Linked DNA regions of Homo sapiens: region 1 is linked to region 2. The links come from fine-mapping of genetic effects on gene expression. A gene starts in region 2. The other region holds a variant in brackets. All regions are shown on one strand. Distances are between the middles of the regions. Region 1 overlaps RADIL (Rap associating with DIL domain). Region 2 holds the start of AP5Z1 (adaptor related protein complex 5 subunit zeta 1).

Region 1 (16,048 bases), 26 kb before region 2:
GGGAGAGGAGAGGGAGGAGGAAGTGGAGAGAGGGAGGGACAGGGAGAAGAAGAGGGAAGAGGGAGGGGAGAGAGATGGGGGGGAGAGAGAGGCAGGGAGGGGAGAGAGAGAGGGAGAGAGAAGAAGAGGGGTAGGAAGGAGGAGAGAGGGAGGGAGAGGAGACGGAGGAGGAAGGGGAGAGAGACGGAGGGGGAGAAAGGGAGGAGGGAGGGCAGAGAGACGGAGGGGGAGAAGGAGAGGGAGGAGGGAGGGGAGAGAGATGGAGAGAAGGAGAGGGAGGAGGGAGGGGAGACAGAGAGAGAGAAGGAGCGGGAGGAGGGAGGGGAGACGGGGGGAGAGAGAAGGAGAGGGAGGAGGGAGGGGAGACAGGGAGAGAGAGAAGGAGAGGGAGGAGGGAGGGGAGACAGAGGGAGAGAGGAGGGAGGGGAGACGGAGAGGGAGGAGGGAGAGGAGACAGACAGAGGGAGGGGGAGAAGGAGAGGGAAGAAGGAGGAGAGTTCTGTTCCCTTGAAGCTGATCTCTTGGCCCCGACCTCTGGTCCCGGACCAAGCACAGAAGTGAGAGTAGAGAAGGTTCTAGGAACTCACAATCAAACAGAACCACCCCCGGGCAAACCAGAGGCTTTCTTGAAGGGTGTGTAAGGGGTGAGGGTGGTGGGGGCCGGTGGTGTTGGAGGACGTCGTTCTGTGCCCTCACCCCTCCTGCACGACGCCCGAGACACCGATTATCCTTCAGCGTGGACATCTGGTAGCCACAGCCCAGGCCCCTGGATATGGGCAGAAAAACACATGGGAGAGAAACAGAGCGAGGAGGCAAAGGTGAGAACAGAGGGGACCCAGCAGCGAGGCCACATCCAAACAGTGGGAGTCCAGAAAGAGCCAGCAGAGGGGTGGAGGGCGCGGGGAAGGCAGGTGCAGGCAGTCTCCAGAGCCACGCATTGAGGTGGAGGAGCTGCTGCCAAGAGTGGGCTTACAGCAAAACTCAGCATCCCAGGGCTGCAGGACGATGGGTGCAGAGAACCCACAGGCTTCCAGACAAGAATCAGTACAAGGCAGACCCTGAAGATTTGCACTCAGGTTGCTTTGGACGAGCAGCACGGGAGTCACAGGACAAAACAGCACCTGCAGAATCCGAAGGGTGACGCCCTCCCGCCTGGAGTTCTGTGCCAGCCAGATGACCAGTCCAGGGTGGAGGTGAAGACAGTTCCAGCACGCAGGGCAGTGGGTTTCCTGCAATGCGCCCCTTTTGGGAAGCTACTAGAAGATCTATTCCATAGAAACAGGACAAACCAGAGAGCTGAAGAAATGAATTGCAGAAAATAAGAACCGGCTGGGAGCCGGGGAAAGGAACCCCAGAAGGATGATGATGGAGGTCCTGGCGGGCCGCAGAGGCTGTTTAATTTTATTGGAGGGATCCACCCTTCCTTACGGTGTAGGCTTTTTGTCTTGCCTAAAACGTTTTCCTGGGCCGGAGCCAGTGGCTCATACCTGCAATCCCAACACTTTGGGAGGCTGAGGCGGGAGGATTGCTTGAGGCCAGGAATTTGAGACCAGCCGTGGAGTTTGAGACCAGGAGTTTGAGACCAACATAGTGAGAACTCCATCTCTACAAAAAAAAACAAAAACAAAAAACTAATGAGCTGGACATAATGGTGCAAGCCTGTGGTCCCAGCTACTCAGGAGGCTGAGGTGGGAGGATCGCTTGATCCTGGGAGGTCGAGGCTGCGGTGAGCTGTGATTGAGCCACTGCACCCCAACCTGCGTGACAGCATGAGACTCTGTCTCAAAAAACAAGCAAACAAACAAATGTTTTCCCTGCCTCCTGTCACCTAAATGATGAATGTCCCTGCCTTCCAGGCAGGTTTTTAGCCGACTTGATTGATTTCTTTCACACCGTTGGAGGCAGGAATCTGATTTCACTGTTCATTTCCCAGTAGTGGTTTCTCTGGTTGGCGGCCGCCTGTGAGGCCGGCCCTTGCTTGAGACGGGGGTGGGTTCCCTGGGCAGGGGGTTCCCGATGGCACTGGCCGGCCTCTCCCTGGAGCAGCTGCCCTTGGAAGTGCCAGGGGTGAACTGCTGCTGTGACACCGTCCCCCTCACAGATGGCCCCTGGTGGGAGTGAGGACCACAGGGCCCCTCAGCTGGCTACCCCCAGGCCACCTGTGGAGGCCATCCCTCTTTGGGCTGGGGTCTGCACCCAGAGACCTGTGACCATGAGCTCCTTCTTGTCACCCAGATGAGCTGGACAGCCCTGCGGGCTGCGTTCCCCGCACTGAGCCCAGCACAGCTGCACCGGCTGCTGACTCACTACCAGCTGGCCTCGGCCATGGGCCCCATGAGCACCTGGGAGCCAGGGGCCCAGGACAGCCCCGAGGCCTTCAGGTCAGGTAAGCCCTGCCCCAGGGCAGGAGAGGGCTGGGGACTCAGTGGGAGACTCGCCCCGAGGCTGGAGGCAGCATGCTCTCATCCCAACTGAAGTGGGGTGTGGGGGACCTCTCTCCTGGGGACCTCCCTGGAGGAGCCTCCACCCAGAGGACCCCCCCGCCCCGCCCCATCCCCAACCTGGGGATCCGGGGACCTCCTCGGCGGGGGAGTCAAGGAGCCGAGAGTCCATGCCCAAGTTCCAAACTCCAGGCTCAGGTCCAAGGCCCCCTCGTTCCCTCACGGAGCCGGAGGATGGGGCCTCCCCTGTTGTATGGCTACCCAGGAAGGGAGCAATGGTGGTACACAGCCGTGGGGACGCATCCCTGAGCCATGTATGTGCACACGCACACACACATGTCCATACGGAGGGGTCTGTGTGCGCATACATGTGTACGTGCATACATAGGGGTGCGTTTTATTTTATTTTTATTTTTGAGACAAGAGTCTTGCTCTGTCATCCAGGCTGGAGTGCAGTGGTGCAATCTCAGCTCACTGCAACCTCCACCTCCCAGGTTCAAGCGATTCTCCTACCTCAGCCTCCCTAGTAGCTGGGATTACAGGTGTCCGCCACCACGCCCAACTAATTTTTGAATCTTTAGTAGAGACGGGTTTCACCATCTTAGCCAGGCTGGTCTCGAACTCCTGACCTAGGTGATTCGCCCACCTCAGCCTCCCAAAGTGCTGGGATTACAGACATGAGCCACCGTGCCTGGCCGAGGGTGCCTTTTATTGATTGATTGACTGAGACAGAGTCTCACTCTGTCACCAGGCTGGAGTGCAGTGGCTCGATCTTGGCTCACTGGAACCTCCACCTCCTGGGTTCAAGCGATTCTCCTGCCTCAGTCTCCCAAGTAGCTGGGATTACAGGTGTGTGCCACCATGCCTGGCTAATTTTTGTATTTTTGGTAGAGACGGGGTTTCACCATGTTGGCCAGGCTGCTCTCGAATTCCTGACCTCAGGCGATCTGCCTGCTCCTGCCTCCCAAAGTGCTGGGATTACAGGCGTGAGCCGCCACCCCCGGCCAGGGGTGCATTATAATGTGTAGATTATACACACATCTCCCTTCATCTGCATTATGTGTTAACACCTCAACAAAACAGAGTACGGGATGGCGGGAGGCGCAGAGGCGATGGGGCCTTGGATGCCCCCCCGCAGCCCCGGGTCACCGTGGAGAACATCTCTGAACAGGAACCCTGGCTCCACCTGACACCTTCTAAGTCCTTCCTCCGCATTGATTCATTTCTGTGGCCTGAATTCTGTGCTGGGAGCTAGGAGCTCAGTATGCACGCACTCTTCCGCCGCCTGAAAGGTGCTCCTGTTCCTGGGGGCAGAGAGCAGCCCGCACACAGGCCGTTTGGGTCCCGTGATTCCTGCAGGGAGGCAGTCGGCTCCAGCCCTGGGAGGAGCTTGCGTCCAGCTCTGCCGGGCTGGGGGAGCTCCAGTTACCCGGAGACACCATCAGAGACCAGTGGGGCAGAGACAGGCCCAGTGCAGAGCGGCTCAGTGGGGCTGGAGGGTTCCTGGCTACAAGGCCTTGTTCTCAGTCCTGAACTGCTCGGATGTCACACCGGGTGGTCGGCGGGAATTCAGAAGGGATGAGTCCTAGGGTGGGGCCAGTCACTGTGGCCAGGATCCCAGCCTCCTGTGTCCACAGGGCAGGGGACTCAGGGCTCAATCTGCTGGCCCCTGGGTTCCCACACCGTTGGGCGGGGCGGCCTGGCGAGGGAGGCAGCTTCTCCTGTGGCCATTACGGGCATCCTCTCTCCCCTGCAGAGGATGTTCTGGAGTCCTACGAAAACCCCCCACCCATCGTCCTGCCCAGCGACGGCTTCCAGGTGGACTTGGAAGCCAACTGCCTGGACGACAGCATCTACCAGCACCTGCTCTACGTCCGCCACTTTCTGTGGGGTCTGCGGAGCAGAGCCAGCCCCGGCAGCCCTGGCAGGCCTGGCAGTGGGGCCTCCCAGCCAGTGTGCCCCGAGGTACCCGGGGAGGGGGCCCCCCAGCCAGCGTGCCCCGAGGTGCCCGGGGAGGGGACCCAGCCAGCGTGCCCCGAGGTGCCCGGGGAGGGGGCCACCCAGCCAGCGTGCCCCGAGGTGCCCGGGGAGGGGGCCCAGCCAGTGTGCCCCGAGGTGCCCGGGGAGGGGGCCACCCAGCCAGCGTGCCCCGAGGTGCCCGGGGAGGGGACCCAGCCAGCGTGCCCTGAGGTGCCCGGGGAGGGGGCCACCCAGCCAGCGTGCCCCGAGGTGCCCGGGGAGGGGGCCCCCCAGCCAGCGTGCCCTGAGGTGCCCGGGGAGGGGGCCCAGCCAGTGTGCCCCGAGGTACCCGGGGAGGGGGCCCCCCAGCCAGCGTGCCCCGAGGTGCCCGGGGAGGGGACCCAGCCAGAGTGCCCCGAGGTACCCGGGGAGGGGGCCCCCCAGCCAGCGTGCCCCGAGGTGCCCGGGGAGGGGACCCAGCCAGCGTGCCCCGAGGTACCCGGGGAGGGGGCCCCCCAGCCAGCGTGCCCTGAGGTGCCCGGGGAGGGGGCCCAGCCAGAGTGCCCCGAGGTACCCGGGGAGGGGGCCCCCCAGCCAGCGTGCCCCGAGGTGCCCGGGGAGGGGACCCAGCCAGCATTCCCCGAGGTGCCCGGGGAGGGGGCCCCCCAGCCAGAGTGCCCCGAGGTGCCCGGGGAGGGGGTCCAGCCAGCATTCCCCGAGGTGCCCGGGGAGGGGGTCCAGCCAGCATGACCCGAGGTGTCTGGGGAGGGGGCCCCCCAGCCAGCGTGCCCCGAGGTGCCCGGGGAGGGGGCCCAGCCAGCGTGCCCCGAGGTGCCTGGGGAGGGGACCCAGCCAGCGTGCCCCGAGGTACCCGGGGAGGGGGCCCCCCAGCCAGAGTGCCCCGAGGTGCCCGGGGAGGGGGTCCAGCCAGCATGCCCCGAGGTACCCGGGGAGGGGGCCCCCCAGCTAGAGTGCCCCGAGGTGCCCGGGGAGGGGGTCCAGCCAGCATTCCCTGAGGTGCCCAGAGAGGGGGTCCATCCAGCATGCCCCGAGGTACCTGGGGAGGGGGCCCCCCAGCCAGCGTGCCCCGAGGTGCCCGGGGAGGGGGCCCAGCCAGCGTGCCCCGAGGTGCCCGGGGAGGGGGCCCAGCCAGCGTGCCCCGAGGTACCCGGGGAGGGGGCCCCCCAGCCAGCGTGCCCCGAGGTACCCGGGGAGGGGGCCCAGCCAGCATGCCCCGAGGTACCTGGGGAGGGGGCCCCCCAGCCAGCGTGCCCCGAGGTGCCCGGGAGGACAGGAGAAGGGTTGGAAGCTGGGCTGGGGGCAGCAGGCGGGAGCTCTGGGAACCCCGGGAGTCCTGGCCCAGCGCAGGCTGTGCTCCGGATGGCGGGGAAGCCCCTTTGCCTCTTGCGCGTCTCAAGCTGCACAGGCTGCGGGAGTCCTTTGCTGACCTCTGCCCCGCGGCCTGGCGGCCCTTCTGCTGCAGGCTGCCCAGTTGCCCGAGTGCTGTGTCCACCTGGCCACTCCTCTACCTGAGCTGTCACCCTTCCTCTCCCTAGGGTATGCACCACGTGGTCCTTGACGGGCACCTGGAGGCCCCGAGCTGCCCCCTGGCTCCCAGGGACCCTGGCCCAGCAGCCCGGGAAGTGGCCCCGGAGCGTACTCTTCCCTTGAGGGGGGCTCCCTGGGCACAGGCCCCCCCTGGAAGGCAACCCAGCCGTGGGGGCTCCCAGGCTGGCCCCCCGCACACGGACTCGTCCTGCTTGCTCACGCCTCCCAGCACTCCACTTGGCCCTGAGCCTGGGGACCCCGACTGGCCAGAGTCCGGCGGCCCCTGTGGAAAAGCGCTCCCAGAGAGGCAGAGGAACGGACTCAGCGGCCTCCGGGGTGCAGCTCCGGAAGGTGAGCCCTGCCTGGTGCTCAGGCGGGAACCCACCCCAGACCCCGCACAGCACCCTGATGGCCGGTCCCCTGGGATCGTTCCCCCCTTGGGTCCTAGGTTTCCTTACCTGCCCCACAGACACCTGCAACCTGAGACGGGGCCAGATGGAGAGGGCTCAGGGCTGCTCAGCCCCCAGCAGCTGGGCCACACGGTCGCTCAGTCGCTGACACGTCTTGGGCAGATACTCACTGTGATCTGGGAGGGAGAGAGTCTAGAAAGTGGCTCAGAGTCACTCCTGCACTGGGCAGAGGAAGGGATGGCTGAGCCAGTGGAGAGGATGTGCTGAGGGGGAACCCAGGGGTCTTCAGGGAGAAGGTGGAGCTGGAGTCCTCCAGGGCAGGGCCTGTGTGTGCCTGTGTGCTTGTGCGTGTGGATATGTGTGCTCACAGGTGCATGGGTGTGCTGGTGCGTGTGTGCATGGGTGTGTGCATCTGCATGGGTGTGTCTGCATGGTGTGCATTGTGTGTGCATCTCTGCATGGGTGTGTCTGCATGGTGTGCATTGTGTGTGCATCTGTGCATGGGTGTAAGTGCACGTGTGCATGGGCATGCTTGCACATGTGTGCATGGCTGTGAGTATATGTGTGCATGAGTGTGTGTGCGCAGCTGGCCTAGGCTGGGGAGGGCATTGAGGGTGAGGCAGCCCCAGCCGGCCCTGGCCTCCTGTGAGGGGCTTGGGTGTGCCTTGCAGGAGCGAAGTGTCCTGGGTGCGTGTGCAGAGTCAGAGTGTCCCCTGTGGCTTGGGGCCACCTGGCCAAGCTGGGTCCCAGGCAGGCCACTTGCTCAGGTGCACAGCTCATCTCTGACCTAAGTGCACCCACGGCAGGATCACCATTATGGAGAGGGCACCAGCTGGTGGCCCTCAGGGCAGGTGCTTGGGCTGGGCTGGGCTAGGGCCTGGGGCCCCGGTCTGGTCAGCGGTGGGAACCCTCAGGGTGCACATGGCCACATCTGGGTGTGGAGGGAGGAGGAGGAGGAGCAGAGATTGCTGAGGAGGTGGCACAGAACCGCGTGGGTCCCTGGAGCTGGAAAACAGCCGCCCCCAGAGGGGCGAGTGTCCTGGGACTGCCAGGGGCGGGGACTGAGGTGCTCCCTCAGGGAACATGGGGGTGTCGCCCATGGGCGGACCCCGACCCTAATGTCTGGGTTGCCGGTCACATTCTGCCTGAACAGCGTCTCCTGGGAGCCACAGGAGGCCATCCCATCCCTGACGCCCTACAGAGGCAGCCAGGCCAGGACATCCCATTCCTCGTCGTGATTCCTGGCGCCTCACTCCCACCCACCTTTCCTGGCCCCCACCCAGGAGACTCTGCAGCCCTTGCGGAGGAGTCCCCTCCAGCCCCGTCCAGCCGCAGCTCCAGCACCGAGGACTTCTGCTACGTCTTCACGGTGGAGCTGGAACGAGGCCCCTCCGGGCTGGGGATGGGCCTGATCGACGGGATGGTGAGTGGCCCAGGACCCTCGCCGCACCCCCATACTGGCTGCCTGGCCCCGCCTGTTCATGCAAGCCTGGCCGCAGCTTGCGTGGCCACGTGGCTACAGGAAGGCCTTCGGGGAGGAGAGTGGGGTTGGCCTCTGCAGCTGGGAGGGGAACCCAGCCTGTCCAACGGCCACGCCCCC[TG/G]GGCCTGCTGTCTCTTGCCTCTGTCCTCAAGCCTTTGGGGTCTGTCCTGGGCCTGTGGGGACGGTGGTGTCCACTGCTTTTCTGGAGGGACGCGTGAAACCATGAGTGGGCCTGGCTGGATGCCAGGCGGGGGCCTGTAGGTGCCAAGGGAGGGGCTGCAGTGGTCCTCGCTGGGGACAGCCAGTCGGGCCTGCGGAGCTCTGAGGCCTCTGCTTGTCCCCAGCACACGCACCTGGGCGCCCCCGGGCTCTACATCCAGACCCTGCTCCCGGGCAGCCCCGCAGCGGCCGACGGGCGCCTGTCGCTGGGGGACCGTATCCTGGAGGTGAATGGCAGCAGCCTCCTGGGCCTTGGCTACCTGAGGTACCCCCACCGCATGCACGCCCGGCCCCTTCTCCCAGATGCCCTGCTCAGGGGAGTGGACCTGGGGTAAAGGAGAGGCCCGGCTGCACCCTGTGGGTCTCCCCTGGTGCCCTCCTGCCCACCCCCACCTCTGGCATGGATTTCAGAGCTGTGGACCTGATCCGTCATGGCGGGAAGAAGATGCGGTTCCTGGTCGCGAAGTCCGACGTGGAAACAGCCAAGAAGATCCATTTCCGCACGCCCCCTCTCTAGGGGGGCTGCGAGGACACCCCCACAGGCCCGGCACCCGGTCCCACCTGGTGACACTGGGCTTCCTCCCGCCTTCGTCCCTGTTTTGTAACTGACCAAGTTGGGTCCCGGGTGGGGAGCCTCACCCTGGGGACATGCCTGTTGATAACATGCATCTCAGTGTAGGTTCTATTTATATGGCAGATGACGTGAAATTGTGATGTTTGTTACAGAGCTTTTATGTTTAAAGACTTCAATGGAGAAGTACGGTTCAATAAACTATTTTTCCCGTTCTTAGAGGGTGCCCTGCTGGGGTCTCAACTCGGGCAGCAGGCGTGGGCTGCTCGGAGGGGCCGCAGGGGCTCCCCATGGCCTCTGCCTGCCACCGGCACGGGAGAATGCAGTGACAGCTGTCATCAGGGGATCATCTGAACTGACTCTCCCTGCCCCCGTCCCACCCAGACACAGGGCACTGCAGGAAGCAGCTCCAACAGCCCCTCCCAGCTGAAGCAGGGCCAGACCTGGCAGAGGATGCTGGACTTCTGATCCCGCTGCTCAGCACAGGCCCCAGAGAAAGGTCTAGACACCCAGGCGTTGGAAAGTGGACCGGCCTGATGGTCTCTGAGGCGCCGAGCCCACCCTGGGCCCTGCTTCCTCTCCCAGGACTCCTGCTCCCTCCTGAGTTCCTCTCCCCTACTAAAGCCACCAGCGTGGCCCTGATACCAGGCTGGCGGCCCCAGGCCCTTAATCCTCACCAGCGTCCCCCTGGCCACCGGCCCTAACCCGGGCAGGAGGCCAGCGTCCCTCTCCACCAGCTGGCTGACCATGCGCAGGACCAGGGCAGGGCACTTGCTGCCTCGGGGTGACAGCGTGGGTCGCTGGGCATCCTCAGCAGCTCCACCAACTGGGTGTGGGTGGCTTCCGCGCCCTCCTGGCTGTGGTGGAACTGGTGGCCCAGGGTCATCTTTGATAGCAACAGAGAAACCCTGGGGAAGAGGGTCCCGGCATCAGTTGCAGATGCACCTCTCACTGGGACAGAGGTCTGTGCGGGGTCCCCAGATCGGTGTCCTGGGTCTGTCCCAGGCCCTGGGCCTCGTGCAGCTCCACGCTGCCCCCTGGTGTGCGCTACGGCGAGGTGCAGCGCGTCCGCCCCGCGCCCTCTGCCGACCCGCAGTTCTGTGTGCGGCTCCGCATTGCGCCTGGCTCGAAACGGCGACCACTGCCAGGTTCCCAAAATACTGGATAAAATATATATATATATATAGTGTTTGTATATATATTTAAGATATGTAAAATATATGAATATATATAAATATATAATTATATATGAATATATTACATATTCATGTATACGTAATATATTCGTATATTTTATAAACATTTTTTATATTTTATTATATAAAATATAAATATTTAATTTTTTTTTATGAGACGGAGTCTCGCTCTGTGACCCAGGCTGGAGTGCAGTGGTGCAATCTCAGCTCACTGCAACCTCCACCTCCCAGGTTCAAGCAATTCTCCTCAGTCTCCTGAGTAGCTGGGATTACAGGCGCCTGCCACCACGCTTGGCTAATTTAGTACTTTTAGTAGAGACAGGGTTTCACCACGTTGGCCAGGCTGATTTCAAACTGACATCAAGTGATCTGCCCGCCTTGCCCTCCCAAAGTGCTGGGATTACAGGCGTGGGATTACCATGCCTGGCCTTGTTCTGTTTCTTTTCCTAGGAGTCCCACAACGTGTGTGTTAGCACTGCCGAGAATGTCTCACAGCTCTGGACGGTCTGCATTTCTGGACCTGGTGCAGATCCCAGGATCCTGGACTCTGATTTGATGCCTTAACGGTGGAAGGGGGTTGAGTATATTTTTTATGTGGGAGGGGTGTGGACTGTGGCCAGAGGAAAGACAGTGGCAAGGCATTTCCAAAGGTGGCCACCAACAGTTCCTCCCACAAAGAGAAGGGGGCTTATCTCTTCTTCCCTGCAATATTCTCCGGCCTTCTGACTTGCTCCGAACAACAGGATGCAGCATAAGTGATATTCTGGGACCTTCCAAGCCAGACTGAAGGGCCTTTGGTTTCTATTTTCATGCTCCTGGAACTCAGCATCCATGGAAAGAAGCTCTTGGCATCACCCCAAGGAAGGGAGGCCCCGTGGAGTCGGGGAGGCCCAGCTAGCCTCTGGCCGCTGAAGCACCTAGCTGAGGTGCGGGACTGGTGAGGGCTGCCACTGGCTGTTCTGGTCTTGCTGAGCTTCCAGGCGAATGCAGTCCCACCAGTGATCCCGGGGACACCACGTGGAGCAGAACGACTTCCCAGCCAGGCCCCAGACAATCTACAACACTGTGAAAGGTAACACTTCTTATGGGTGTTTTGTTTTTTGGTTGTTTTGTTGATGGAGTTTCACTCTGGTCACTCAGGCTGAAGTGCAATGGTGCAATACGGCTCACTGCAACCTCCGCCTCCCAGGTTCAAGTGATTCTCCTGCCTCAGTCTCCTGACTGGGATTACAGGCACCTGTCAGCACACGCAGCTGATTTTTGTATTTTTAGTAGAGACCAGGTTTCACCATGTTGGCCAGGCTGGTCTCAAAACTCCTGACCTCAGGTGATCTGCCTGCCTCGGCCTCCCAGAGTGCTGGGATGACAGGCGTGAGCCACCGTGCCCGGCCTGTTTTTGTGTTTTAAAAGCATTTTATTTTGACATAATTATAGATCCAAAGGAAGCTGCAAAAATAGCAGAGTCCCGTGTACCTCCACCAGCTTCTCCCACTGCAAAACCTGAAAACCGACGTTGACTTGTTACTATTAATATAGCAGTTACGCTTTGTACATATTCAGTTGTCACCACTTTTTAAGTTAAAGTGGAATTCACATAGAGTTAGCTATTTAAAGTGTATAATTCAATGGCAAGCAGCACGTTCACAGTGTTATGCAACCATCACCACTGTCTAGTTTGGTCACCTCCAACGGGGAAAACACGGCCACTAAGCAGGCTCTCCCCATTCCCTTCTGCCCCTAGGCCCTGGCAACCACAAACCCACTTTCTGCCTCTGTCTACACCTCTTGTGGATATTTCATGTAAGTGTTATCAGAAAGGGGTCCTGATCCAGACCCCAAGAGAAGGTTCTTGAACCTCGAGCAAGGGAAAATTCAGGGCAAGTCCATAAAGTGAAAGCAAGTTTATTAAGAAAGTAAAGAAACAGGCCGGGCACGGTGGCTCACGCCTGTAATCCCAGCACTTTGGGAGGCCGAGGCGGGCAGATCACGAGGTCAGGAGATCGAGACCATCCTGGCTAACACGGTGAAACCCCGTCTCTACTAAAAATGCAAAAAATTAGCCGGGCGTGGTGGTGGGCACCTGTAGTCCCAGCTACTTGGGAGGCTGAGGCAGAATGGTGTGAACCTGGGAGGCGGAGCTTGCAGTGAGCCGAGATCGCGCCATTGCACTCCAGCCTGGGCAATAGAGCAAGACTCTGCCTCAAAAAAAAAAAAAAGAAAGAAAAGAAACAGGCGCAGCGGCTCATGCCTATAATTCAAGCATATTGGGAGACTGAGGTGGGTGGATCACCTGAGCTCAGGAGTTCGAGACCAGCCTGACCAACATGGTGAAACCCCATCTCTACTAAAAATACAAAAATTAACTGGGTGGGACAGACGCGTTGGCTCACGCCTGTAATCCCAGCACTGTGGGAGGCCAAGGCCTGACCACCTGAGGTCAGGAGTTTGAGACCATCCTGGCCAACATGGTGAAACCCCGTCTCTACTAAAAATAGAAAAATTAGCTGGGAATGGTAGCAAGCGCCTGTAATCCCAGCTACTCAGGAGGCTGAGTCAGGAGAATCACTTGAACCTGGGAGGCGGAGGTTGCAGTGAGCTGAGATTGTGCCATTGTATTCCATCCAGCCTGGGTAACAGAGCAAGACTCTGTCTCAAAAAAAAAAAAAATAAATAAATAATAAAATTAGCTGGGGGTGGTGGCACACACCTGTAATCCCAGCTACTCAGGAGGCTGAGGCCGGAGAATTGCTTGAAACCAGGAGGTGGAGGTTGCAGTGAGCCGAGATTGCATCATTGCACTCCAGCCTGGGCAACAGGGCAAGACTCTGTCTCAAAAAAAAAAAAAAAAATGGCCACTCCAAAGGCAGAGCAGCAGCATGAGCGCTAGTGAGTATATTTAGAGTTATTTCTTGATTACATGCTAAACAAGGGGCGGATTATTCATGAGTTTTCTAGGAAAGGGATGAAGATTTCCTGGAACTGAGGGTCCTTCCCCTTTTTAGACTACATAGGTAACTTCCTGACGTTACCGTGGCATTTGGAAACTGTCACTGCGCTGGTGGGAGTGTCTTTTAGAATGCTAATGAATTATAATTAGCAACTAACGAGCAGCAAGGATGACTAGAGATCACTGTCGTTGCTGTCTTGGTTTTGGCCAGCTTCTCTACAGCATCCTATTTTATCAGGAGTGTCTTTGGGACCCGCATCTTGAACCTGTACCTTGTGCTGACCTCCTGTCTCATCCCGTGACTAAGAATGCCTGTCCTCCTGGGAATGCAGCCCCGCAGGTCTCAGCCTCGTTTTTACCCAGCCCCTATTTAAGACGCGGTTGCTGTGGCTCCCACGCCTCTGACCTGAGTCATGCAGTATGTGGCCTTGGGTCTGGATTCTTTTGTGTCCGGAATTGGTGGGTTCTTGGTCTCACTGACCTCAAGAATGAAGTCGCGGACCCTCGCGGTGAGTGTTACAGTTCTTAAAGGCTGCGTGTCCGCAGTTTGTTCTTTATGATGTTCGGATGTGTTCGGAGTTTCTTCCTTTTGGTGGGTTCGTGGTCTCGCTGGCTCAGGAGTGAAGCTGCAGACCTTCGCGGTGAGTGTTACAGCTCTTAAGGCGGCGCGTCTGGAGTTGTTCGTTCCTCCCAGTGGGTTCGTGGTCTTGCTGGCTTTAGGAGTGAAGCTGCAGATCTTTGCGATGAGTGTTATAGCTCATAAAGGCAGTGTGGACCCAAAGAGTGAGCAGCAGCAAGATTTATTGCAAAGAGCGAACAAACAAAGCATCCCGGTGTGGAAGGGGACCCGAGTGGGTTGTCACTGCTGGCTCGGGCAGCCTGCTTTTATTCTCATCTGGCCCCACCCACATCCTGCTGACTGGTAGAGCCGAGTGGTCTGTTTTGACAGGGTGCTGATTGGTGCGTTTACAATCCCTGAGCTAGACACAAAGGTTCTCCATGTCCCCACCAGATTAACTAGATACAGAGTGTTGACAAAAAGGTTTTCCAAGTCCCCACCAGAGTAGCTAGATACAGAGTGTCTATTGGTGCATTCACAAACCCTGAGCTAGACACAAGGTGCTGATTGGTGTGTTTACAAACCTTGAGCTAGATACAGAGTGCCAATTGGTTTATTTACAATCCCTTAGCTAGACATAAAGGTTCTCCAAGTCCCCACCAGACTCAGGAGCCCAGCTGGCTTTCACCCAGTGGATCCTGCACAGGGGCTGCAGGTAGAGCTGCCTGCCAGTCCCGTGCCCTGCTCCAAAGGCACTCCTCAGCCCTTGGGTGGTCGATGGGACTGGGTGCCCTGAGCAGGTGGCAACACTCGTTGGGGAGGCTCGGACTGCGCAGGAACCCACGGAGGGGAGGGGGGAGGCTCAGGCATGGCGGGCTGCAGGTCCCCAGCCCTGCCCCGCAGGAAGGCAGCTAAGGCCCAGTGAGAAATCGAGCACAGCAGCTGCTGGTCCAGGTGCTAAGCCCCTCACTGCCCAGGCTGGCGGGGCTAGCCGGCGGCTCCGAGTGCGGGGCCCACAGAGCCCACGCCCACCCGGAACTCGCGCTGGCCCGCAAGCACCGCGTGCAGCCCTGGTTCCCACCGCGCCTCTCCCTCCACACCTCCCCGCAAGCTGAGGGAGCCGGCTCCGGCCTTGGCCAGCCCTGAAAGGGGCTCCCACAGTGCAGTGGCGGGCTGAAGGGCTCCTCAAGTGCTGCCAAAGTGGGAGCCCAGGCAGAGGAGGCGCCAAGAGCGAGCGAGGGCTGTGAGGACTGCCAGCAGGCTGTCACTTCTCACTTTCACTTAGCATATAATGTTTCTAAGGTTTATCATCTTTTCTGTAAATCTGAAAAACTATTCTAAAATTTCAGTTTATTTAAAAAAAAAGTTGAGAGCTGGTGAGCTTTGCCCTTTTCCCAGCTGCCTCCTGGAGGCCACCTGAAGGTTGCTCCTCCCTGGGCTGGGGTCATGCCCTCCGAGGCCCTGTGGCCATGAGCTCCTCCTTGTCCCTTGGATGAGCGGGACGGCCCTTCAAGTCACACTCCCAGTCCTAAGCCGGGCGCTGCTGCACAGGCTGCGGACTTAGCACCAGCTGGCCTGGGCGGTGGCCCCACGAGTGCCTGGGAGCTGGGAGCCAGGACACCCCCGACGCCTTCAGGTCAGGGAAGCCCCGCCCCAGGGCAGGAGGGGAGCTGCGGACTCAGTGGGAGACTCATTCCGAGCCTAGGGGCAGCCCCACGCTCTCTGAGCTTCGGGATGAGCCCAGCAGCGCCCCCACACCCACTGCTGCAGGCGGGGTCGTGCACCGCACTGGGAAGTGATCCCGAGACCCGCGCACTGGCACGCACGCCTTGGTATGCACAGTTGTACACGTGCGCTGCTGTTTCCACGTGGAAACACAAACACAGTGCTGCCGACGGAAGCGCCTGCCAGCGCCAGCCTTTCCTGCGGCCCCGGCTCAGCGGCCCTGGGCTGTCATCGCAGGCCGCGGGGGACACCAGCCGTCCTGGAGCTCGGAACGCGACCCAAGGCCCAGGCTGTGGGGCAGGCGAGCGCTTCCTGGGCTGGAACCTGGCGGTGAGGACCCCGCGGTTCGGCTCGGGCATCTGGGGAGCTCCTGAGCCCGCACGGTGTCCCCTGCTCCGTTCCTTGCGCGTCACTCGCCCCCTCCATAGTCCTGAGGCTGGGCAAGGGGCAGGACCCTGCAGTCGCCTTCAGCCTGTGGTTTCTTAGTCGCAGAGCTATGGGGGATTGGGGGCGGGGCCGAGGCCGGAGGGGAGGTGGGCGGGGCCAGAGCAAAAGAGGAGACCGGGGGCGGAGCCAGAGTGGGGAGGGGGAAGAGTTTGAGCCTGGGGGCGGGGCGTGAGGCTCTCGGGGCGGCGGCGCCCCCTGGCGGCTGAGCCCGTCCCAGGCACCGGGCGGAACGTGCGACACAGCTGTGCCTTGGTAGTCCGGAGGGTGGGACCACAGGGCCCAGGAAGGTGGCGGGGCTGGGGCCGCACGCCCAGACACCTCCCCTTCGCGCGAATCCAGTGTTCTGAGCTCCACTCAGGTGGCTCCCTGGGGCCTTCCCTCCGAATGGCCAGAGGCCGCAGCCTGCATAGGCCATGGCGCTTGCAACCCTCCCCCGGTCCCCTTCATCTTCAGGCTATTCAAGGGCATCAAAAGGGGCATTGACAAGCGCACCACCCAGAGCGGTGACCACACCCGGGAACTCGCGCCGCTGCCTTCCGGGCTGTG
Region 2 (10,323 bases):
CTGGGTGACAGAGTAAGACTCTACTTCAAAAAAAAATATATATATATAATATAATATATATGTTATATATAATGTTATATATGTTATATATGATATATATGTTATCATGTTATATATGATATATAATAATCATGTTATATGACATATAACACGTTATGATATATAACATGTTATATGTTATATATCATATATAACGTGTTATGTTATATACGTTATATATGTTGTTATATGCGTTATATACGTTATGTTATGTTATATACATTATTTCTAATGTTATATATGTTATATCTAATATATGTTATACATAATATATGCTATATATTATGTTGTTATATATGTTATGTTATATATGTTATATAGTTGTTATATATGTTATATATAATATATAATATGCTCTATCTCAAAAATGTATATAATATATATTTTATATATATTACATATAAAAATATATTTTTATATCTATCTATCTATCTATATATATATTTTTTGAGATAGAGTCTTATGCTGTCACCCAGGCTGGAGTGCAGTGGCATAATCTCAGCTCACTGCAGCCTGATCTTCTAGCTCAAGCAGTTCTCCCACCTCAGCCTTTCAAGTAGCTGGGACTACACTAAGCCCAGTGAATTTTTTTTATTCTTTTTTTGATTATATATAAAATATTATATATCATTATATATTATATATAATGATATATAATATAACATATAATATATAACATATAATTATATTATATATTACTAAATATATATGTAATATATAATATATAAAATGTTATATATAAATTATATATACACACATATACATATATACACACAATGGAAAATCTTTCCCAGAAAGGTGGAACCCCTCATCCCGATTAAATTCCCTTCAGCATATTCTCCAAGTCTCAAGCTTCTCTCTAAAATCCAACCCACCCAAACCCTTCAACAGCTCCCCACTGCTTTCAAATCCAAACTCCTACAGACCCCAACGCTGCCTCCAAGAGCCCGGCCCCGCCTTCCTTCTCCAGACTCCATGTCCTGTTTCTTTTGCTTCTGTCCCTTCGCACAGACCCTGTGCCTGATACATGCCCCACTAGCTCCCGAGCTAGTGGGCTGAGGCTCTTCCTCCTGGAAATCCCCGACCTTGCGGGGCACCCCTCCATGCCCCCATCCTTTACTCGCTTCCCGCTCTCTCCATTTATCCTTCAGCTTGCAGCGCTATCTTTGATCACTTTTTGCACCCTTGCTTTCCGTATCTCTGACACATTTAGAGAGAAACTAAAGTTCACTCCAAATCTTTTTGGCTTTCTTTGGAGACAGGGTCTCCCTCTGTCACCCGAGCTGGAGTGCAGTGGCACCATCATAGCTTACCGCAGCCTCAACCTCCTTGGCTCAAGTGATCCTCCTGCCTCAGCCTCCTGAGTAGCTGTGACTATGGGTACGTGCCACCACACCTGGCTAAGTTTTTTAAAAATTCTGTTTTGTAGAGACGGGTCTCGCTATGTTGTCCAGGCTGGTCTCAAAGTCCTAGCCTCAAGCGATCCTCCTAACTCGGCCTCCCGAAGTGTTCGGATTACAGGCGTGGGCCAGTCACTGCGCCTGGCCGGCTCCAAACCTTAACCCTCAAACTACAGTCATTTATTTTAAAATATCATCAGAAATCACAGGCTTAAGAATATTGTGAAAACTGGTAAGCCCTAATAGATTAACCTTCTTGAAACCCTAACAGAGGGCAACTGCAGAACTCATGTATGTTACATAGGGAAATTCAACCACACTCTATCCTCAAAAACGGCTGCCCACCCGAGCCAGGGAGGCAGAGAAACAGGTATTTAAATAGTGAGGGCTCAGCCGGGTATGGTGGCTCACACCTGTAATCCCGGCACTTCGAGGGGCCGAGTCAGGCGGATCACCTGAGGTCAGGAATTCGAGACCAGCCTGGACAATGTGGTGAAATCCCATCTCTACTAAAGATACAAAAAATCAGCCGGGTGTGGTGGCGGGCGCCTGTAATCCCAGCTACTTGGGAGGCTGAGGCAGGAGAATTGCTTGAACCCAGGAGGCGGAGGTTGCAGTGAACTGAGATTGCGCCATTGTACTCCAGCCTGGGCGACAGAGGGAGACTCTGTCTCAAAAGAGACTCTAATAAAAATAAATAAATAAATAAATAAATAAATAAATAAAGAGGGCTCTTCCTTTTGTTTTTCATGTCACAAGTTTATGACCTTGAGCAGAATGTGACTGGGAATGAAGTTCTCAGTGGGTGTTTTTCCTTGTCTCTTGGCAAGGACCTTGGGATTAACATGTTACATGCTGAGATGCCAGTATTTTTCATTTTCATATAGTCCCCACATTCACATGAATGACATATCTGTCCAGGATTGAAGGGAAGGTTGCCTATGTTGAGCTGCTGGGAGATGGTGCTGCATATTCACCAAGCCTCTTCCTAATGAGTGGACTCTTAAGGGTTATTTTGATCAGAGATTTTTGTCCTGTTCGGGCTTTAGAACTTAACCTGCCTTCAAGACCTCACTCACTATAATCACAGCAATTTCAACCACCCGAATCTTTCCCACCAATTGGTCTAGCTCTGAGTCCAGGTTTGCTTGTTTGTTTTGACATGGAGTCTCGTTCTGTCACCCAGACTGGAGTCCAGTGGTGCGATCTTGGCTCACTGCACCCTCGGCCTCCTGGGTTCATGCACTTCTCCTGCTTCGGCCTCTCACCTCACCAAGTTTGTTTACGTTTACCAAGGGGCTGTAGTGCTGGCTGTATTTTCTTTACTTTTTTTCTTTTTTCTTTTGAGACGGAGTTTCGCTCTGTCCCCCAGCCTGGAGTGCAGTGGCGCCATCTCAGCTCACTGTAACCTCCACCTCACAGGTTCAAGCAATCCTCCTGCCTCAGCCTCCCGAGTAGCTGGGATTACAGTCACCCACCACCACGCCCGGCTAATTTTTTTTTTTTTTTTTTTTTTTGTATTTTCAGTAGAGACGTGGTTTCCTCATGTTGGGCACGCTGGTCTCGAACTCCTGACCTCAGGTGATCCGCCTGCCTTGGCCTCCCAAAGTGGTGGGATTACAGGCGTGAGCCACCACGCCCGGTCAGCATTTTCTTCTTTTAAACATGTAGTATGAAGTCTTTGCCTGTTTGGTGGACCGTGAGTCTGTTCAGTCCTGGCTTACACTGTTTTCCCCCATGACTGGTTAGTTGGTGAGGAAGGAGCTACTCACTCGTTACTGGGAGTCCAGACACAGCCTGAAACCAGCCTGGAGGGTGATTTCTCAGCCTAGCTAATACATCCGCGCAAGAGAGATCTTTTTAAGTCACAAAACCCTCCCACGGTTCCGCAAAGCCCTCGGATGGCCTCCAGCTCCCCAGCCTGGCACACAGCCTTATTCCTTAGCAGGCCTCCGGACACTGTGACTTTGCGTTCTTGACTGTGAGGCACTGAAATCTCCCGGCTGCCCGATTTCCTGCCAGACGCGGAGTTCTCACCGCCAAGCCTTTGACTAAACTGTCGACTGGGTCCCACCCCACTTGCTTTCACTCACCAAGACTCTGCTCAAGTGTCACCTCCTCCGGGGACCCACCATGACCCTCCCCGACCTCCTCACCCCAAGCCTGGCCGCCGTGTTGCCTTACCCGATCCCCAAGTCTCGAGGGCGAGTCCAGTCGGGTTCCTGCAAGGCTGGCGCCCAAGCCCCTGCCCTGTGAGACCCACCCCCGTGTGCCCCTAGGGAGAGATGCAGGAAGGAGGGCCGGGGCCGCAGCTCCCCCGTACCTGGCCTGGTGGAGCAAACTCTCCGCTCCTGCCGAGAACATCACGCCGCCGCCACCAGACGCGCACGAACCTCGGAAACTCCAGGAGCTGCAGCCCAGGAGCTCCGCACCCCGGTCAACTTCCGGGACCGCGTCACGTGAGCGCAGCGGCCTTACGTGGCTGCGTCACGTGCCGCATCACATGAGCAGGAGGGACAGGTTGCCGACCAATGGGCTTTGGCGTGGAGCGACTGGGGCGGGGCGTAGGTGCCGCGGCCGGGGGTCCGGGTCGGCGCCTGGGAGCTGCGGAATCGCGCGACCCCGGAACCTCGGCACTCTGGAGCCCCGGCGCCCTTCGACCCCGGAAAGCATTTCGGCGGAAATTGGGCGCCTGGGGCTTTGGGAGAGGGCATTGCTGGCCCCAAAGTGTCACTGCCCCAGTTCTGGTTTCTGTTTCGTAAACAGCTTTGTCGTGCGGGAGTCCCTTTGCTAAGTACGACCTGAAAATCTGATGCAAACTCCGACACTTGTGGGCTGAGCCCAGCAGTGTCCAGCAGTTTGCAAGGAATAGCCGCGGCTCTGGGCAGTTTTGGGGATTTTTTGAGCTCCCATTTATTGAGCACCCATCCCGCGCTGTTCCTGCTGCTTGAAACGAAAAAATCCCTTATTCAATCCCCACGGTATTCATGGGATCTCGCGATCTCTGTTTTACAGATGAGGCCACAGGCTCGGAGAGGGGAAGTTTCTGTTCATTCTAACGGATGTGTTGGGTGCCCAAATGTGCTGGGCCCTGGCCATAAGTTTGCCATCCTGCAGACGGCCGAGGGACACAGGGCGACACGCCAGCGTCATGATAAACGCTATGACAGCCTGACCTGGTTGGGGGTCCAACCGGAGGAGGAAGGCTTCGGCGACTGCGGCCTAAGATGAGCCCAGAGGGTGTCCAGACCAAGGGGTGGGGAGGGACGGGCCTAGGGTAGCGATCTGCTTCCTATGGCTTAAATGCACCCCAGGAGGAAACTGATCTCTGGCCGCAGGGGAGATAATGGATTGGGAAGCTCCTGAGGGAGAAAGGAGGCTGGTGCAGTTGTGGTCCAGGTAAGGGAGGTTGCCCCGAAAGTAGGCAGATTCAGTACCATTTAGAGGTAGGATTTGCACCACCTGTGATTGAGGAATTTGCAGGCAGGAGGAAGAAAGTGGAAAAATCAAGGGTAACTTCATGTTTGTGGGGTGTCTGTCTGGGGCAGAAAAGGACGAGGAAATTTGTGCCAAGAGTCATTCATTAAGTGGACAAGCGATGATTGAGTCCTAGCTGCGCTAGGCACTGCTGAAGGTTCTGGGGAATAGGGTAGGGGTGGGAATCAATGTTGCGTAGATAGGGTGGGTCAAGGTTAGGCCTTGAAGGGATAAGCCCCGAGAAGACCCCTGGATGGAAGGAAGGAGGAGGAGGAGGGAGGGCTTCCTGCAGGAGTTCCAAACATGGCTTTGAGATGCCCTAGGGCGCCCAGTGATGTCTGAGGGCACCTGGTGCAGAGAATGAAGAGATGGGAATCGGTGGATGGTGAGCGGTGGATGGGAGTCGGTGGAGTGCGGCGGGTGCCCCTGGAGCCGCAGGTTGAAGACTGGCAAAGGAAAGCTGGTGACAGGTAGTCTATGGAAAGCCTACTGCCAGTGTTTAACGTTTACTAGGGTAAAACGTCCACACCAAAGCGCACAAATCTTAAATGAACTCCACTATTTACATTTCTAGAAATCGGTGGTAAATTTGCAAATGTCTTAAGCCTCGGCTCCATTGGCGACGGTGGGGAGCCGGGGGTTGATTTGTGTTTGATAATTTCTGTGGTGTAAATGTTCCTGCCATGGTTTGAGTTCAAGACCTAGACCATTTCCAGCTCCCCAGAGGTTCCCCGCTGTGGCCCCCTCCCAGTCAACGCCCACTCCCTTCCCCCACAAGTAACTGCTAGTCTCTCTTATCACCAGAGATTAGTTTTGCGTCTTTTTATACTTCATGCAAATGGAATCGTACCGTACTTAGCTTTTCTTGTTCGTCCATGAATATTTGGTCGGTTTCCAGATTTTGACAATAACGAATAGAGCTGCAGTGCACAATTGTATGTCTTCTGGGGTTCTGAGAGATGCACCCCTCTTTGTTGTATAGATACCAGGTTCACAGGGAAGCTAACTTTAACTGAGATTCCAACTGTGTGCCAGGAATCTCAATCTCTCTCTCCCTCTCTCTCTTCACACAGACACGACCTTAAGCAATTTTACCAGGGGTAATATTTGACTTGTTTCTTACAAAATATTTACATTAGTGTAAAATATTATTTTAAGGTCTCACTAGTGAAAAATGGTTGTGCTAATCAAAAGCAAAAAAGGCCAGGCACGGTGGCTCACACCTGTAATCCAAACACTGGGAGGTCGAGGCAGGAGGATCGCTTGAGCCCAGTTCAAGACCAGCCTGGGCAACATGGCAAGACCCTGTCTCTAAACAAGCAAGCAAACAAACAAACACAAAGACAACATCTTAAAAAGGAAAGATGCAATTAATAATTAGCCAACGCAGATCCCTGGAGGAAGCCTACATACGCTTCTCACTCATGTTTGCTATTGGGCTAAAATGTTTTTCTTTTTTTTCTTTTTTTTTTTTTTTGAGACTGAGTCTTGCTGTGTCCCCCAGGCTGGAGTGCAGTGGCGTGATCTCAGCTCACTGCAACGTCCACCTCCTGGGTTCAAGCAGTTCTCCTGCCTCAGCCTCCCAGGTAACTGGGATTACAGGTGCAAGCCACCATGCCTAGTTAATTTTTTGTATTTTTTTTAGTAGAGACGGGGTTTTACCATGTTGTCCAGGCTGGTCTTGAACTGCTGACCTCAAATGATCCACCCGCCTTGGCCTCCCAAAGTGCTGGGATTACAGGCGTGAGCCACCGCGCCCAGCCTGGGCTGACATCTTAAACTAGAACTAATCTGTTAAAGTTATGTTAACCTCTTACAATGGAAATGGAGTAACTTGAAGGAAGACAGAGAAGCAGTGAAACCTTACCTGCAATGGTGGGTAACTGTGCCATCGGAAAAATGCAAGTTATTGAACTGAGGGAGTCACATGCAAACACTACAGAACCTTGACAGAAGAGAGACATGTGACAAGCATGCACCACTGTCAAGTCTGTCGGAGGCAGTCACACAGACACACCCAAGGGTCTCATAAGTCTGGGGGACTCTCAGAAGAGACAGTGACTGATGGCATCGCAGCTGAGCTTCGGGGCGCCAGGCCTGTGGGGTGGGGGTGCCTGTGCTGCATGTGAAGAAGTGGGGCGCATTGCAAGCTGAAGTCCCACAGCTGGTAAGGACACAGTAGGAACTTGAACCCAGGTCTGTGTAGTTCCAAAGTCAATGCCATCCCCACCCCCCAGGCCCCACACCTACAATAAGTAAGGCCTGAGAGAATTTCTACCCACGTACATTTCTACCCATCTTGGACATGGGTAGAAATTCTCATCTAGCCAAGGGCCAGCAGGAAGGACCCACAGTTGCCCAGGAGCCACTGGGGCAGCAACGAGTACCTGCAAGTGCCCCCCAGCCAGGATGTGGGCGTGTGCCAGGGGCAGGGGGTTGGCTCAGCTGGTTTCTGCCTTTGCCATGTCTGAGGGGAGACACACGTTGTCTTCACATTCCTGGAGCTGCAAACATCCTCGCTTAGAGCACTCTCAGTGGGTGGGGGTCACTGACTCCAGGAGCCACAGGCACCTGCAGAAGCATCTCCTGTGTGAGCCAGGAACGGGACACCAGGGACCTATGGGCGACTTCCCTTATCAGCAGCCGCCCTTCAGCCTCTGGAGCAGGGGGGCGCAGTGCCTGTGTGTCCAGGGGGCCGGGAGCCTGTATGTCCAGGGGCTCAGGGGTCTGTGTGTCCAGGGGTCAGGGGTCTGTGTGTCCAGGGGGTCGGGAGCCTGTGTGTCTAGGGGGCCGGGAGCCTGTATGTCCAGGGGCTCAGGGGTCTGTGTGTCCAGGGGTCAGGGGTCTGTGTGTCCAGGGGGTCAGGGGCCTGTGTGTCCAGGGGGTCAGGGGCCTGTGTGTCCAGGGGGCCGGGAGCCTGTATGTCTAGGGGGTCGGGAGCCTCTGTGTCCAGGGGGCCAGGTGCCTGTATGTCTAGGGGCTCAGGGGTCTGTGTGTCCGGGGGTCAGGAGCCTGTGTGTCCAGGGGGTCAGGTGTTTGTGTATCCAGGGGGTCGGGAGCCTATGTGTCCAGGGGCCTGGTGTCTGTGTGTCCAGGCCGTCTGTCCGTCCGCCACCTTCAGTAGCCACCTGCGCAGAAGGACCACACCGGAGCCGCAGGGTCATTTCTTTAATATAGAATTTTATTTCTGGTTATAGAAACAAATGCTAAGAGGAGAAACAAAACTTCCCCATCCACATACAACAATTTAATAGATAAAAGAACAGTTAAAATAAATGAAAAACAAAAAGTAGAAATTTTAAACTTTGTTATAGCTTTAAAACATTAACGTCTGATACAATTAGAAATCACATTCAGATCTCAAACTCTTAAAAAAAAGTATGGCTCCTTATTAAAAAAATACTGTATCCCACTTGAAATGAAAACACAGGTTGCCTGCTGTTGACATGGGTGGGGCTGTCCCTTCCTCTGGTGTCGTGCGTGCCCCCTCCCGGTGCTGGGGTGCAGCCACACCCCCCCGCCGGGCGCCCACCTTCACTCCTCCAGGGTGAGACACGCAAGGTGACATGACCAGAACTTCACATCCAATGCTCTAGAACTGACATTTCCACTTCATAGGACACTGCTGCTTTTTAAAGCACTGATTATCAAACATGTTGTGAAAAATACTTTAGACAGGCGCCACTGTAAAAAAAAAAATACACACACACACACACACACACACACACACACACACACCGAACAACACCCGCCCCTCCCAAATTATTTTTACAGGAGAATAATCGTTCAGATTAAAACAACAAGAACAAAAACTCAATATTGGCTTTAACCCCTCCTGCACGTGTGCTGAGCTGCCGGCCTTTGTCATCTGCAGGGCACGTGCAGCCCAAGTGTCTGGACTCAGCGACATCTCAGGACAGACTCTGGAACACGGCTGTTGTCTCTCCTCCCGCCCCCCTTTTCCTGAAACAGAAATCAAGCCACATACATGAAGGTATTCTAGGTATCCAAAAAGCCTTTCTTGAAAAAAAGAAGAGCCAAACTTAAAATACTTGATTTGATTATTATTTTTGAGACAGAGTCTCCCTCTGTTGCCCAGGCTGGAGTGCAGTGGCATGATCTCGGCTCACTGCAACCTCCATCTCCCAGGTTCAAGCGATTCTCATGCCTCAGCCTCCCTGGTAGCTGGGATTACAGGCACACGCCACCACGCCTGGCTAATTTTTTGTATTTTTAGTAGAGACAGGATTTCACCATGTTGGTCAGGCTGGTCTCAAACTCCTCAGGTGATGCGCCTGCCTCGGCCTCCCAAAGTGCTGGGATTACGGGCATGAGCCACCGCACCTGGCCAAATATTTGATTTTAAATTCCCATTGTTACTGATTAAAAAAAAAAAATCTGGACCAGTTAACCTGGAGATTTAGAGGCTATAGACACAATTTAACATCCATACAGGCCTGTGAACTTCATGCAGAGAACAAACAAACAAACAAAAACTCTAATTCAGAGTCTCTCATTTCAGCTTAGCCAACACATTTGGAGACTTAGGGGCCAGTTCTAGAAGCTGCTTTTACCTCTAGACTCGGAGGGGCAGGCCCTGTCACCGAAGGGAGGAAAACTCTTCTTGGCTGTCAGCCCGGATTGAAGCCACTTCGCTTCCCCTGGCCCCAGCTTTCCTGCACTCTTTTCACCGTGTCTGACACAGGGCAAACCACCAACCACTCAAATGAGCAAACAATTCCAGAAAAAAGAATCCGAGATAAAGAATAACCAACTAGGAGTCTTTCCATTGTAGTATCACGCTAAAACAAAACAAAACAACAAAAAACAAAAACTGGGTAAGGAGCAAAAAAAGTGACAGAGGCCAGGCGCGGTGGCTCATGCCTATAATCCCAGCACTTTGGGAGGTTGAGGTGGGCAGATCACCTGAGGTCAGGAGTTCAAGACCAGCCTGACCAACATGGTAACACTCTCATCTCTATTAGAAATACAAAAATTAGCCGGGTGTGGTGGCAGGTGCCTGTAATCCCAGCTACTTGGGAGGTTGAGGCAGGAGAATTCGCTCGAACCTGGGAGGCGGAGGTTGCAGTGAGCCGAGATTGGGCCACTGCACTCCAGCCTGGGCGATAGAGCGAGACTCCATCTCAAAAAAAAAAAAAGTGGTGACAGAGTGACTTGGAGACCGCTTCAGTCACCTTTGGCAGCCTCTGGTGGCCTGAAATCTGGACGATGGAACTTAAGACGCAACTGGGTCACTGGGGCCTGAAGCGGGATGGGGGCGGGGGGCCCTCCGCAGCCAGTGTTCAGCAGCTTCACCAAAGCAAATAAATACATTCACGGCTTCTCCCTGGCCCCGGTATTTTTCTTTTCAACGCATTTTCCCCATGGCGAGAATGACAGGGCAGGT

What was found.
Region 1: its variant is fine-mapped to the expression of AP5Z1 in whole blood (TOPMed, PIP 0.94).

Annotation. Positions count from the first base shown.
Region 1 is chr7:4,791,904-4,807,951 of GRCh38, reverse strand. RADIL (Rap associating with DIL domain) reads left to right here. Exons shown (of 15, transcript NM_018059.5): 10 at 2,236-2,386; 11 at 4,198-4,406; 12 at 5,957-6,299; 13 at 7,642-7,781; 14 at 8,183-8,322; 15 at 8,469-10,897. The coding sequence ends at 8,574. AP5Z1 (adaptor related protein complex 5 subunit zeta 1) reads right to left here. Exons shown (of 17, transcript NM_014855.3): 17 at 13,555-16,048. Among named protein-coding and RNA genes, the nearest start is that of MIR4656, 11 kb to the right of the region's middle. RefSeq lists silencers at 9,725-9,774, 15,599-15,718 and enhancers at 14,350-15,024, 15,129-15,208. The variant TG/G (reference allele first, on the strand shown) is at 7,959.
Region 2 is chr7:4,769,196-4,779,518 of GRCh38, reverse strand. It overlaps AP5Z1 (adaptor related protein complex 5 subunit zeta 1), which reads right to left and starts at 3,896. Exons shown (of 17, transcript NM_014855.3): 1 at 3,763-3,896. The coding sequence starts at 3,803. FOXK1 (forkhead box K1) reads right to left here. Exons shown (of 9, transcript NM_001037165.2): 9 at 8,077-10,323. RefSeq lists enhancers at 3,218-3,327, 3,348-3,407, 3,748-3,817, 4,248-4,337, 4,378-4,427 and 2 more and a silencer at 3,938-4,067.